Linked DNA regions of Homo sapiens: region 2 is reported to be linked to region 1. Evidence: microRNA targets listed by miRTarBase, many of them from high-throughput screens and not tested one by one. Region 1 holds a microRNA gene; the other region holds the end of a gene's coding sequence.

What was found. Region 1 holds the annotated microRNA hsa-miR-512-5p (CACUCAGCCUUGAGGGCACUUUC, at 2,017-2,039, opposite strand). A microRNA usually pairs through its seed, bases 2 to 8, with sites in the 3' UTR of a target mRNA and lowers its output. Matches are read on the target gene's strand: a 7mer-m8 pairs with bases 2 to 8, a 7mer-A1 pairs with bases 2 to 7 and ends in A, and an 8mer does both.
Region 2: miRTarBase lists ABHD17B as a target of hsa-miR-512-5p. Seed matches in the 3' UTR shown: 7mer-A1 at 1,463-1,469.

Annotation. Positions count from the first base shown.
Region 1 is chr19:53,665,319-53,668,730 of GRCh38, reverse strand. MIR512-1 (microRNA 512-1) reads right to left here and starts at 2,052; the gene lies at 1,969-2,052. The region is part of intron 2 of LOC107985342 (a long non-coding RNA gene); the gene reads right to left. RefSeq lists enhancers at 1-463, 1,352-2,240, 2,241-3,128, 3,129-3,412.
Region 2 is chr9:71,863,806-71,867,217 of GRCh38, reverse strand. ABHD17B (abhydrolase domain containing 17B, depalmitoylase) reads left to right here. Exons shown (of 4, transcript NM_001025780.3): 4 at 212-2,066. The coding sequence ends at 431. Among named protein-coding and RNA genes, the nearest start is that of ABHD17B, 46 kb to the left of the region's middle.

The DNA of each region.
Region 1 (3,412 bases):
TAGTAGAGACAGGGTTTCACCATATTGGCCAGGCTGGTCTCGAACTCCCGACCTCATGATCCGCCCACCTCAGCCTCCCAAAGTGCTGGGATTACAGACGTGAGCCACCGCACACGTCCAGCACCTTTTAAATTACGTGGACAGGCCCGGTGTGGTGGCTCACCTGTAATCCTAGCAGTTTGGGAAGCCAAGGCAGAAGGATTGCTTGAGCACAGGACTTCGAAACCAGCCTGGGAAACATACTTAGCCCCCTTATCTACAAAAAATGCAAAAATTAACTGGGTATGGTGGTACGTACTTATAGTCCCAGCTACTCAGGAGGCGGAGGTGGCTCACTTGAATCTGGAAGGCAGAGGTTGCAGAGAGCCAAGATCTGGCCACTGCCCTCTGGGCACCGGTGTAGTCTCAGCTACTCGGGAGACTGATGCAGAAGAACTGCCTAAACCCAGGAGGTGGAGGTTGCTGTGAGTTCCCACAACTGCACTCCAGGCTGGGCAATAGAGTGAGATCCTGTCTCAAAAAATGAAAAACATTTTTGCTCTACAAGATTACATTTAATTGGCAACTACCTAGCTTTGAACCAGCAAGGGGAAAAGTAACAGAACGGCATGTCTGTCTCACTAACTTCTTGTTTTTTTGAGACAGGTTCTTGCTCTGTCCCCCAGACTGCAGAGCGGCAACACAGCCGTCGGCTCACTGCAGCCTCAACGTCCCTGGCCATACACAACTGCAGCATTTTGGCTAAACCAGCATGGCTTACAGAGAACAAGTAGTTCTTTCTCTCTCTTTTTTAAGACAAGCGTCTTGCTCTGTTGCCCAGACTGGAGTTCGGTGGCGCGATCTCGGCTCACTGCAACCTCCGTCTGCCGGGTTCAAGCAGTTCTCCTGCCTCAGCCTACCGAGTAGCTGGGACTGCAAGCCTGTGCCATCATGCCCAGCTAATTTTTTTGTATTTTTAGTAGAGATGGGGTTTCACCATGCTGGCCAGGCTGGTCTCGAACTCCTGGCCTTGTGATCCGCCCTCCTCGGCCTCCCAAAGTGCTAGGATAATAGGCGTGCGCCACTGCGTCCTGCCACAATAGTTCTTTCAATGGTAAGACTAGTTGAAAACCTGAGTTAGATGTGTATCTCTAATCTTAGTGATATTTAAATGTAAATAAAAATGTTATGTCTGGAACACACTTGGGCTGCTTGGGATATATTCAGATAAATACTATTATACATAATTTATAAATAAATACTATTTATTTACTAATAGGGTATCAGAAAGGTACAATCCCTATGTCTCCAGGTTGACATAGAAATTTTCTACTGGTCCGAAAGTTGCATCTGTACGACTGGCCAGTTGCTTCTGGTTCAACAAGGACCTAACCTGCCAATCACACAGGACAGCTGGGGGCTGACATTCCAAATTGTAATCTTTACTAGGCACAGAGGCTTAGCAGGCCTCTGGTTTAATAACACACGAAAGTAACTGCTTGAAGTAGCAAGGCACTCACTCACAAGGCACCTATAGAGTTGGTACTTATGGTCTGGAAATAGCCACATTGTAAGCTGACCACCAGTTATAATTACCAAATATTGGCAGGGCACAGGGGATCATGCGTGTAATCCCAGCACTTTGGGAGGACGAAGCAGGAGGATTGAGCCCAGGCCTCAGCTTGCTTCTTTCGCTGTGTTGTGACTTGCCTCGAAATTCTTTCCAGCAAGAGATCCAAGAACCCGCTTTTGGGGTCTGGATTGGTTGCCTCTTCTCTGGCAATGGTGTGACCCAGGCTATCCCTGAATCCAAGCATTATAGCTGCTACGGAACCCAGCCTCACAACCCAGAGACCGTGGTCATTTCCTTAAAGCTGGGCTGAAGTCCAGTTTATGGCGCAGAACAAGCACCACGGTTTAGCTTTTACCTGCAGTGGCTCCTGGAGCCCCCCGCCCCCCCTCCCCCCCATGGTGTTTCTTCGGTGCTCGCCTCAGTCATTGGACCTCAGCTATGACAGCACTTTCATTCTGGCACCAGAAAGTGCCCTCAAGGCTGAGTGCCACAGACTGAGAAGTACCCTCCCTGTATTGTCCAGTACCTGGAAACTGCAGGCACATCCTCTATGCAGAAGATAAGAGATTTAAAACTGACTTCTGAATGTTGCTCAATAGCGAAAGGTAGATTGAGCACTCTCTCCAGTTCTCAGGAACAATGCAGAGCCTTGTAATGCAAATCCTAGGCCTGCCCTGGGGCTCATGCCTGTAATCCCAGCACTTTGGGGGTCCCCAGCCTGAATAACACCTTTTACATTACTTTGTTTTCTTTTTCTTTTTCTTTCTTTTTTTTTCTTAGTCTTGCTCTGTTGCCCAGGCTGGAGTGCCATGGAGCGATCATCAGCTCACTGCAGCCTCCGCCTCCTGGGTTCAAGCAATTCTCCTGCCTCAGCCTCCTGAGAAGCTGGGATTACAGGCGCCTGCCACCACACCTGGCTAATTTTTGTATTTTTAGTAGAGACAGGGTTTCACCATATTGGCCAGGCTGGTCTCGAACTCCTGACCTCGTGATCCGCCCACCTCAGCCTCCCAAAGTGCTGGGATTACAGACGTGAGCCACCGCACACGTCCAGCACCTTTTAAATTACGTGGACAGGCCCGGTGTGGTGGCTCACCTGTAATCCTAGCAGTTTGGGAAGCCAAGGCAGAAGGATTGCTTGAGCACAGGACTTCAAAACCAGCCTGGGAAACATACTGAGGCCCCCTTCTCTACAAAAGATTTAAAACTCAGCTGGGTGTGTTTGTGCACACCTATAGTCCCAGCTACTCTGGAGACGAAGGTGGATCACTTGAGTCTGGAAGGCAGAGGTTGCAGAGAGCCAAGATCTGGCCACTGCACTCCACCCTGGGCAACAGAGTGAGACCCTGTCTCTTTAAAAAATAAAGAAAAGGAAAAAGCTGCCTTTGTGGACACCTAAATAAAAAATAAAATGAACCTAAAACCTACTGGGTGCAGTGGCTCAGAGGCCGGGGTGAGAGGATGTTTGTGCCCAGGTGTTGATGACCAGCCTAGACAATGGTGGGAGACCCCAACCCTACAAAAAAAAAAAAAAATTAGCTAAGCATGGTCCTGTATGCCTGCCATCCCAACTACACGGGACGCTGGGGTGAGGGAGGTTGAGGCTACTGTGAGTCACGATCTCACCACTGCACTCCAGCCTGGGAGACAAGCCCATCTGGGCAACACAGTGAGACTCAATCACTAATTGAACAAAATCCAAAAATTTTAAAAAATCAATAATGCGGTCCAGGAATGGTGGCTCACACCTGTAAACCCAGCACTTTGGGAGGCTGAAGAGGGCGGATGACTCGAGGCTTGGAGTCTGAGACCTGGCCAACATGGTGAAACCCCACCTCTACTAAAAATACAAAAACAATC
Region 2 (3,412 bases), not on the chromosome of region 1:
GTGCATGAAAATAACTTCCTCAGATAATCTTAAGGTAGGGAGTATGTAAAAGGCAATTTTTGAATCTTACTGGAAATTCAGGAGACATTCTTACCTTCTGAACTGATTCATACAATTCTCATATTTGAATTATCTGTCTGATATAGCACAAGAATATGTTCCTTTACATAGTTAATTTATTGCATTTTTCCCCCTTCCTTTTTCCCTGCAGCATTGACAAAATCTCTAAGATAACCTCTCCAGTATTAATAATTCATGGGACTGAAGATGAAGTCATTGACTTTTCACATGGCCTCGCATTGTTTGAACGTTGCCAAAGACCTGTGGAGCCTCTCTGGGTTGAAGGAGCAGGTCACAATGATGTGGAACTTTATGGACAGTATCTTGAAAGGTTGAAACAGTTTGTGTCACAGGAACTGGTAAATTTGTAAAATATTCTGTAAATTTGCTACTGGGTTTTCCTTTCTTGCTGAACTGCACTCTTTGGTAAATAACATAAAACCTGAAGGTTTTGTTTGCAAATCATGTCAGTTGCCTTCATAAATGTACAGGTAATGATTTGTTAACAGACTTAATGAAGGTTTTAATTACCAGAACTAAAAACTGGAAATAACAGTACCGTGCAGTCAGGCTGTGTAATTTATATTTTTTCTGTGAATTTTTTTTTAACATCAAGATGAGTACTGTATGAGATTTTAATTCTATAAAATCAAATGCTGTAAAAGTATTGCCAAATGCTTTTGCATACTAGAAACAAATTTATAAATATTTTTAAAACATCTCAATATATTAAATCTTATCCTGGAATACAACTGTAATATTTTGAAAAAAGCTATGTATCTAAAGCAATTTAAGTACTCATAATGGAATGAACTGTAAAAGAGATTTAAAACCATGCAAGTTCACTAGAATTAACCTAAACCCTGTTGTACAGGGATAGAGGTTTAAAGTTATTTTATTGTAAAATACATTGAATTTTCTGTATACTCTGATTACATACATTTATCCTTTAAAAAAGATGTAAATCTTAATTTTTATGCCATCTATTAATTTACCAATGAGTTACCTTGTAAATGAGAAGTCATGATAGCACTGAATTTTAACTAGTTTTGACTTCTAAGTTTGGTACTGTGAGGCAAGTACTTAAAATTTTCATGCTGGTTACTTAAAAGGCATTTAGAGATTTCAAGAATGATTTTGTATACGATGTTTTAAATTTTGACTGATCTCATAGTCTTCATAGAATTGCAGTAGTCTTCATTGTATGAAATCCCGAAAGTCCATGAGTTGATCTTAAAGACCACTAACAGACTGGCTATCAGATCCCTTTTCACTTTGGCTATTTTTTTCATTTTTTGAGATGGAGTCTTGCTGTGTCACTGAGGCTGGAGTGCAGTGGCGCGATCTTGATTCACTGCAACCTCTGCCTCCCGGGATCAAGTGATTCTCCTGCCTCAGCCTCCTGAGTAGCTGGTATTACAGATGCTTGCCACCACGCCTGGCTAATTTTTGTATTTTTAGTAGAGACAGGGTTTTGCCATGTTGATCAGGCTGGTCTTGAACTCCTGACCTCATGATCTGCCCTTGGCCTCCCAAAGTGTCGGAATTACAGGCATGAGCCACTGCGCCTGGCCCACTTTAGCTATTTTTAAAAATAGGACCTATTGTTTTGGATTACTATCTGAGAATTTCATGGATTCACTCCTGGGTATAGGAGATAAGAATACGTTTAATTCATAACTTTTATATTAACCAATATAGTAAAAAAATAAAGCTCACACATACAAAAACTAAGTTGCCTTTCCTTGAATGAACCCTGTCTGAATAAAACAATGAAAAATAAAAATAAAATTAATGGTATGTAGTCTAATTTGTAAATGAATGAATATGGAAATAATACACACTGTGGATATATTTTAAGGCCTTATGTAGTTTTAATTGTTCTGCTCGTTCCGTGGTTATGTTTAAGACTATAGTATATGACTCTCTTCAAAGTATATCAAGTATTGTGAATGCTTTGGTTCAGATGTGTCAAATTAACAGTAAAACAACAAATATACCACTGACCTGTGCTTATTTGCCTTTTTCCATGCTCCCCACCCCCACACTAGAAAGAGTGAAAAAAAATTACCCTTCGTTTTTATAGGACATAGTTTGAAAATTTTTAAAATTATATCATCACTTTTTTGGAGAGGTCTTTCTTTCTCAAGATTGTCTTGTAACCTATACAGTTTCTTCTTTGTACAGCATACAACCCAGGGCTTAGCTAAATGTTTTCTTTGATTACCTGGGGAAATCTAAATATTGATCCTATTCATTCAGTGTTCGTTCATTCAACAGACAGTTACTGAATGTATAAATCATGCAAAAACCTGTGCTAGGTAAAGACAGACTGTGTCCTCATAGATTTCATGGTATAGCTAAGGAGACAGGCACCTCATTGCACAAATATTACTATTTTGATAAGGGCTGAAGGAGATTTGTAAGGTATTGTAACAGGTAAAAGGTACTTTTGGGAGGGGAACATAGGGAGCAGGGCAAGGAAGAGTCCCCCAGAGAAGTGGTATTTCAGCTAAGTTTTGAAGGATAACTAAGAATTGGGTAGACCTGGGTGACCCAGGGGAAGCATTCCTAGCTGAGGGGAATGAATAATATATGGAAGCCTAGAGGAAGGAAGGTGCAGTTAAATATGAAGACTGGGCCAGGGGCGGTGGCTCATGTCTGTAATCCCAGTACTTTGGGAGGCTGAGGCAGGTGGATCACGAGGTCAGGAGATCGAGACCATCCTGGCTAACACGGTGAAACCCTGTCTCTACTAAAAACACAAAAAGTTAGCTGGGCGTGGTGGCACGCGCCTGTAGTCCCAGCTACTTGGGAGGCTGAGGCAGGAGAATCACTTGAACCCGGGAGGTGGAGGTTGCAGTGAGCCGAGATCGCACCACTGCACTCCAGCCTGGGTGACAGAGCGAGACTCTGTCTCAAAAAAAAAAAAAAAAAAAAAAAAGAAAGTTTGGCCTATGCATGAGGCTGCTAATTAGGAACACAATTACAGATGGCATGGTGAACCCTAGTCTTTATCCTAGAAACAAATAGGCCATTGATAGAAAAAGGAAACAGCACTTGTCAAGAGTATAGATGAAAAAATCTGGAGATTTTCGCTTGCTGGAAATAACGTGTAAGTCAGTTGTGTAGAAACTGATCTAATTTTAGAGTGGTGAAAAATACATCATGGGAAAATGATACACAAAGTGCTGTTCAAACCACATTTACATTACTAATGTTATTCCAGGATGCAGTGAAAGGATATTTACAAATTAGAGCAAATCCTGAGGTATTTGCCAAGTTGGAAAAGGTACCGTAAACTGAAACTCCCAAACCAGCTGAAAGATGTGACTAAGGAGTAATAGCTACC